2 separate regions of the Homo sapiens genome follow, and region 2 is reported to be linked to region 1. The links are microRNA targets in miRTarBase. Many come from high-throughput screens and were not tested one by one. Region 1 holds a microRNA gene; the other region holds the end of a gene's coding sequence.

What was found. The annotated mature microRNA hsa-miR-4728-5p reads UGGGAGGGGAGAGGCAGCAAGCA and lies in region 1 at 1,785-1,807, opposite strand. An mRNA with a match to its seed (bases 2 to 7 or 8) in the 3' UTR can be bound and repressed. Matches are read on the target gene's strand: a 7mer-m8 pairs with bases 2 to 8, a 7mer-A1 pairs with bases 2 to 7 and ends in A, and an 8mer does both.
Region 2: the mRNA of HAVCR1 is a reported target of hsa-miR-4728-5p. The part of its 3' UTR that is shown has no 7-base or 8-base seed match.

Annotation. Positions count from the first base shown.
Region 1 is chr17:39,723,731-39,728,302 of GRCh38, reverse strand. It overlaps MIR4728 (microRNA 4728), which reads right to left and starts at 1,808; the gene lies at 1,742-1,808. ERBB2 (erb-b2 receptor tyrosine kinase 2) reads right to left here. Exons shown (of 27, transcript NM_004448.4): 19 at 4,293-4,391; 20 at 3,392-3,577; 21 at 3,099-3,254; 22 at 2,901-2,976; 23 at 2,450-2,596; 24 at 1,644-1,741; 25 at 1,300-1,488; 26 at 756-1,008; 27 at 1-614. The coding sequence ends at 259. RefSeq lists an enhancer at 1,028-2,000.
Region 2 is chr5:157,027,209-157,030,208 of GRCh38, forward strand. HAVCR1 (hepatitis A virus cellular receptor 1) reads right to left here. Exons shown (of 9, transcript NM_001173393.3): 9 at 2,205-2,633. The coding sequence ends at 2,525. Among named protein-coding and RNA genes, the nearest start is that of HAVCR1, 30 kb to the right of the region's middle.

The sequences.
Region 1 (4,572 bases):
GGACCCTAGAGTCTCATTGGGCAGGGCCTCAGAATCCACAAAGACTCCCCAGTGCTGTTCCTCTTCCAACGAGGCTGGACCCCTTCCAGCCATCTGGGAACTCAAGCAGGAAGGAAGGTTCCTTAGGACAGGTTCCTGGCATGGCAGGTTCCCCTGGAAGTGGTCGGAGGGCCCTCCCACCTCTTGATGCCAGCAGAAGTCAGGCCTTCCCTGCTCCCTGAGGACACATCAGGGCTTCTGCGGACTTGGCCTTCTGGTTCACACTGGCACGTCCAGACCCAGGTACTCTGGGTTCTCTGCCGTAGGTGTCCCTTTGAAGGTGCTGGGTGGAGCCCCCCGCTCTGGTGGGTCCTGGTCCCAGTAATAGAGGTTGTCGAAGGCTGGGCTGAAGGCAGGAGGAGGGTGGGGCTGAGGGGCAGCTCCTCCCTGGGGTGTCAAGTACTCGGGGTTCTCCACGGCACCCCCAAAGGCAAAAACGTCTTTGACGACCCCATTCTTCCCTGGGGAGAGAGTCTTGGGCCTTTCCAGAGTGGCACCAGCAGGTCGGGCAGCAGGCAGAGGGCCCTCTCGGGGCGAAGGGGGCTGGGGCCGAACATCTGGCTGGTTCACATATTCTGAAAGGTCAAGAGAAGGTGACCCATTAGGGGAAGGAACCCCGGTGTCTCTGCCACTCCCTCTGCCCCCACAGTGGACCCTGGGCTGAAGGTCCCACCTCCCCTGCCCATCAGTCTCTCTGCTTAGACTGGACTCCATACCAGGCTGGGGGCTGCAGGTCAGGGGGGCAACGTAGCCATCAGTCTCAGAGGGCAGGGGTACTGTGGGGTCCTCACTGTACCGCTGTAGAGGGCTGGGGTCATGTGTGGGGAGGCTTTGCAGCCCCTTGGCTGCCCCCATTCCCAGGTCACCATCAAATACATCGGAGCCAGCCCCTTCGGAGGGTGCCAGTGGAGACCTGGGGGCCTCCTCTTCAGAGGGCTCCAGCCCTAGTGTCAGGTCCCCACCGCCACTCTGGGGACAAGAAAGAAAGTCATGATGGGGGTCACTCACGGATCTGGGATGGGGACTCCATGGAAGGTGACAGGGTCACAGGAGAAAAACAGAGGTCACCTTTGGGGTATGACACAGTCACCGTGGAGAGAATGGGGTCACAGGGGTTGGAAGGCAGTAAGAATTTTTTGTAGGGATAATGGGGTTTCCTTGAGAGGTGACAGTTGAGGGAACATCAGAGAAAGGGACCCTAGTCCACCGGGGTTGGGGGAGGTAAGCAGACAGCCACACAGTGTGACCGAGGGCACTGACCCTGGTAGATGAGCTGCGGTGCCTGTGGTGGACCATGCCCCCAGCGCCCGGGGCAGGGTCTGGACAGAAGAAGCCCTGCTGGGGTACCAGATACTCCTCAGCATCCACCAGGTCCCCCATGTCATCGTCCTCCAGCAGTGAGCGGTAGAAGGTGCTGTCCAAGGGACTGGCTGGGCCCAAGTCCTCATTCTGTGGAGGAAGGAGAGGCAGGATGGTGGCCCCTCCCCAGCCCAGCATGCAGCCTTCCGTGAGGGGCCTGGCATACTGGACTCATCTCTCCTTCCCACCCTCTGCAGGAGGGTGCTCTTAGCCACAGGCAGGGATGGGGCACAGAGGCCCAGTACCTGGATGACCACAAAGCGCTGGGGGTCCCTGGCCATGCGGGAGAATTCAGACACCAACTCCCGGAATCTTGGCCGACATTCAGAGTCAATCATCCAACCTGGGGCAGGAGGGAGGTCAGCATGCTAGTCCCAGGCCCTGTGTGCTTGCTGCCTCTCCCCTCCCACTCCCCCTCCAGTCTGGTCTAGACAGTCCCAAGGGACAGCCCAAAGCCCTCAGGTGGTAGAGAAGTAGCACCAGACTCTGGGGTCTTCAGCCAGAACCTTTGGCATCTCTTCTAGTTTCCCTTTTAATTTTTTTTTTCTTTTTGTTTGCTTTTTTATTTTTTTGAGATGAGGTTTCGCTCTGTCACCCAGGCTGGATTTCAGTGGTGCAATCATAGCTTACTGCAACCTTAAACTAGGCTCAAGTGATCTTCCTGCCTCAGCCTCTCCTGAGTAGCTGGGACTACTGGCACACACCACCACACCCAGATAATTTTTTTATTTTTTGTAGAGATAGGATCTCACTATGTTGCCCAGGCTGGTCTTGAACTCCTGGCTTCAAGGGATCCTCCCACCTCAGCCTCCAAAAGTACTGGGATTACAGGCATGAGCCACTGTGCCCAGCTTAATTTTGTACAAGAGTGTTCCTCAAGAGTGGCTTTGGACTTTGACTGTAAAAGGGATACAAGAAGGTTTTGAGGCTCCTAACATACTAGGGCTCCTGGGTCTACATACATCCTGGTCCCCTTTCATGCCCCTTGTGGGCTCCTCCACCCAGGACCTCCCACCCTCCTCCAGGCAGCCAGCACAGCTCAGCCACGCACATTTGACCATGATCATGTAGACATCAATGGTGCAGATGGGGGGCTGGGGCAGCCGCTCCCCCTTTTCCAGCAGGTCAGGGATCTCCCGGGCTGGGATCCCATCGTAAGGTTTGGCCCCAAAAGTCATCAGCTCCCACACAGTCACACCTAAGGCAGAGACAGGGTCAGGAGTGGGAGGGCCAGAGGGAGCTTTAGTGTACTGAGCCAGAGGTTCTGCTCAGGAGTCTAGCATCATGGCAGGTAGCAGGGGGAGATGTGATGCCAGGAGACAGACCCTACCCGGTCTTTCCCTAATCCTGGGAAGTGCACAGACCCTGCAAGGTGGGGCACAGGCAGCCCCTTCCCTCCCTTCACATGCTGAGGTGGCCCCGTAATTCTCCCCATCCCAGCTCTCATCCTCCCTCCAGCCATGGCTCCTCACCCACCCCTCCCAACACCCCCCATCACACACCATAACTCCACACATCACTCTGGTGGGTGAACCGCCGGCGGAGAATGGACTCCAGCGCCATCCACTTGATGGGCACCTGGGAGGGCAGAAGAGGAAGTCCTCCAACTGTGTGTTGTGGGGAGGTGGCCACTCAGAGTTCTCCCATGGGCTAGACACCACTCCACCCAGCCTCCTCTGCTCCTTGGTCCTTCACCTAACCTTGCCCCCATCTGCATGGTACTCTGTCTCGTCAATGTCCAGCAGCCGAGCCAGCCCGAAGTCTGTAATTTTGACATGGTTGGGACTCTTGACCAGCACGTTCCGAGCGGCCAAGTCCCTGTGTACGAGCCGCACATCCTCCAGGTAGCTCATCCCCTGGAATGGGAAGCACCCATGTAGACCTTCTGGGAGGGCCTGGGCCTGGCCACATGCCCAGCAAGAGTCCCCATCCTAGCCCCTTGTGGACATAGGGGTTTGCTCCGGAGAGACCTGCAAAGAGCCCAGGTGCATACCTTGGCAATCTGCATACACCAGTTCAGCAGGTCCTGGGAGCCCAGGCGTCCGCGGTTTTCCCGGACATGGTCTAAGAGGCAGCCATAGGGCATAAGCTGTGTCACCAGCTGCACCGTGGATGTCAGGCAGATGCCCAGAAGGCGGGAGACATATGGGGAGCCCACACCAGCCATCACGTATGCTTCCTGGGGACAAGGGTACGCTGAGAGGGTATGGGAGACCACACACCCCCAAACACCACACAGCCTCCCAACCATCACAAACCACAGCCATGGCCCACAGCCTGTGAAGGCTCAAAGTACCAGCCTGGACAACATGGTGAAACCCTGTCTCTACTAAAAATACAAAGATTAGGCCGGGCACGGTGGCTCACACCTGTAATCCCAGCACTTTGGGAGGCCGAGGCGGGCGGATCATGAGGTCAGGAGTTTGACACCAACCTGGCCAACATGGTGAAATCCCATCTCTACTAAAAATACAAAAATTAGCCGGGCGTGGTGGCTCGCGCCTGTAATCCCAGCTACTCAGGAGACTGAGGGAGAAGAATCGCTTTAACCTGGGAGGCTGAGCTGAGACCGCACCATTTCACTCTAGCCTGGGTGACAGAGCGAGACTCTGTCTCAAAAAAAAAAAAAAAATTAGCGGGCGCTTGTAATCCCAGCTACTCAGGAGCCTGAGGCATGAAAATCGCTTGAGTCCAGGAGGTGGAGGTTGCAGTGAGCCGAGATAACGCCACTGCACTCCAGCCTGGGTGACAGAGCAAGACTCCGTCTCCAAAAAAATAGTCTAGGTTTGCGGGAGTCATATCTCCCCAAACCCCAATGAAGAGAGACCAGAGCCCAGACCTGCAGCCATGGGGTCCTTCCTGTCCTCCTAGCAGGAGAGGGTGGAGGGGCTTACGTCTAAGATTTCTTTGTTGGCTTTGGGGGATGTGTTTTCCCTCAACACTTTGATGGCCACTGGAATTTTCACATTCTCCCCATCAGGGATCCAGATGCCCTGGGCAGAAAGAGGAGGATATGAGTGAGAAGAGCGTGGGCTGGATCCTACCTGCCTTCCAGGAGATCATTACTTGTCCTCCAAACATCCTTCACCACCCTAGGGCTTGGCCCCGCTCCCTTCTCCGCTGTAACTGCCCTCCCCCAAACACTGCCTCCAGCTCTTGCCCCTCCCATCAGAA
Region 2 (3,000 bases), not on the chromosome of region 1:
ACATAAGGATTTGGGGATTAGAGGATGCAGCCCCATCTAGTGGGACCCTGGTCACATAGCAATCCAGTCCAATCTTGCCAGGTCTTTCCAGAGAAACTACAAATCTTGGCTTTAATTTCAAATCTCCAATTTTGTGCATGTTGCCTCAAATTTAAGAAAAAAAGACACTATAGCTTTTAAAAAATAAAATTTTTGACCAGATCGGGCTGGCCACATTTGGGAAAACTGAAATACCATGTATCACAATCTTATTTGCCCACAGAATTTTCCTTCAAAGGACCTATAAATTTCCTAGAATGATAACTGCGTTAAAAAATGTTGCCTCTGGCTGGGCGCGGTGGCTTATGCCTGTAATCCCAACACTTTGGGGAGGCCAAAGCGGGTGGCTCACCTGAGGTCAGGAGTTGGAGGCCAGCCTGGCCAATATGGTGAAACCCTGTCTCTACTAAAAATAAGCTGGGCGTTGTGGCGGGCATCTGTAATCCCAGCTACTCAGGAGGCTGAGGCAGGAGAATCACTTGAACCTGGGAGGTGGAGGTTGCAGTGAGCCAAGATTGTGCCATTGCATTTCAGCCTGGGTGACAAGAGCAAAACTCCATCTCAAAAAAACAAAAACAAAAACAAAAAGTTTCCTCTGAAAGCAAGCATCCTGTTGCCCCAGACAACTATGGTATGGGTAGCTCTGAACCTCAACCATGAATTATTTCAGAGTTTACTCAAACTGAAATTGAAATTAATACCCAGCCTTAACTGTTCATGTAGAAATGTTTCTTTTCTGACAAATCTAGCCCTTGCAAATCTATACTTAGTAGAGAACAGTGTTTCTCCATGTTGGTCAGGCTGGTCTCAAACTCCCGACCTCTAGTGATCCACTCACCTCAGCCTTCCAAAGCCCTGGGATTACAGGCATGAGCCACCATGCCCGGCCGGCAAATATATACTTCTAAACAATTATACTGGTTTAGTATAATTGTTTTTTATATATTTTTATACTGACTAAAGATATCCTTACAATAAGCCTAATTGAATTGTAAAAAAAAAAAAAAAAAAAATACAGGAATTGATTAGATATGAGAAAGACACTTTGCCTTTCCAAAACAATTTTATCTTTTTTTTTTTTCCTTAAATTTTTTTCTTAATAGAGATGGGGTATTGCCATGTTGCCCAGGCTGGTCTCAAACTTCTGGGCTCAAGCTACCTGCCCACCTTGGCTTCACAAAGTGCTGGGATTACAGGCATGAGCCACGGCGCTAGCCTCCTAAACAATTTTAAACATGAAAGTGGTTTGGAGGCGATTTAGAATTTGGGTCAAAACTAGTGAGTTTCAAACACTTATATCTGCAATGTAACTTATAAGGCAGAAAAGGCAGACTTTTCCCTACTCCCGCCTTTTTTTTTTCTTTTATTGCTGATCTTCTTGGTTCTAAAAATTTGTTCAGAAAGCCTGATGGTTGTTTAAATGCTTAGCACCATGACACACGTGTAATAAAAATTGCATAAATGGACCAGGCACGGTGGCTCATGCCTGTAATCCCAGCACTTTGGAAGGCCAAGGAGGCTGGATCCTCTGAGGTCAGGAGTTCGAGATCATTCTGGCCAACATGATGAAACCCTGTCTCTACTAAAAAAATACAAAAAATTAGCTGAGCATAGTGGCGGACACCTGTAATCCCAGCTACTCGTGAGGCTGAGGCGGGAGAATTGCTTGAACCCGGAAGGTGGAGGTTACAGTGAGCCGAGATTTCACCATCGCACTCCAGCCTGGGCAACAAGAGCAAAGCTCCATCTCAAAAAAAAAAAAAAAAATTGCATAAATATGTTAAATCACCTGGCAAATGATTTTCTTCCCCTGGTGTCTATGTGTTCCATACTATTGTAGGCTCTTTAACTGGTAAAACAGCTACCCCAATTCAGAGATCCAGTACTTAATGCATCACATTTCCAGAGTTATGAGAAAACAGCTAAACCTGTGAGTTAGACTCACTTTGTTTCCCCACGGAGGAAATAAAAACCCACGATTTGAAACCTTTGGAAAACATAGGAAATGCAACATTTGGAAGTATAACATAGAAACAAGAGATAATCATACAATGCTTCCAAATGAAGTCTCACGTTGGATTTGCTGGTTTTTAAGACAGATTCCCCTCTTCTGGACAGCTGTGATGGCCAAGATAGAAGTTCATTTGCTATGTTTCCAGGGACTATTCTCTTTGATGTATACAGGATTTATGGGGTCTAAAAAGAACATACAATTATAAAGTGTTCATATTTGAGAGAAAACTGCAATGATCAGAAGGATTGAGCCAGTTTTAGCATAAAAAATTAGGACTACATTAATGATGAGGTTGACTATACACAGTTTGGAGTGAGAGAGTTACTCTACCCAGTATCACTGACATGTTGGAATGCCAGATGAAACTGAAACAGAAAAATTGTCTTGGGGTCTAAAAGACGTCTGATGTGCTGATGTCTGTTCAGTCTTCTGCACTCATGGGCGTAAACTCTCAAAGAGCACCACTGGGTCTTAGTCCGTGGCATAAAGACTATTCTCAATGTAGATATTGTCTTCTGCTTGGACTTCCTTTTCAACTGCATTTTGCAAAGCTTTAATTTGAAGGCTGCTAAATGAAACACTGTAGAAAGAGTTGTTGAAGAATAACATGAGTAAGAAAAAAAGCAGACCACTTCTCACATATAAGCTGCACTTTTGTTTATGATCAGGCAATATCAGGTATTCGAGACTCCAGGAGCCCCGTTCACACAAAGTATAAAATAAATAGTGCCTTCCAGAGTTGTAAAAGGTGTGGCTCTTATTATTAAGTTGAAGAAAAGTCTGTTTAATAAGCATGTAGACAATCTAAGAAGTATTCAAAAACTCAGACTGGTCTCTTTGAAACTCGCATAATAGAATACAAAAATGGAAAATCTAAAAATACAGAGCTCTGACATCAAACTAAGTGGCTGAATCAAGATGCATATTTTCAAATGTGGCTAAGCATT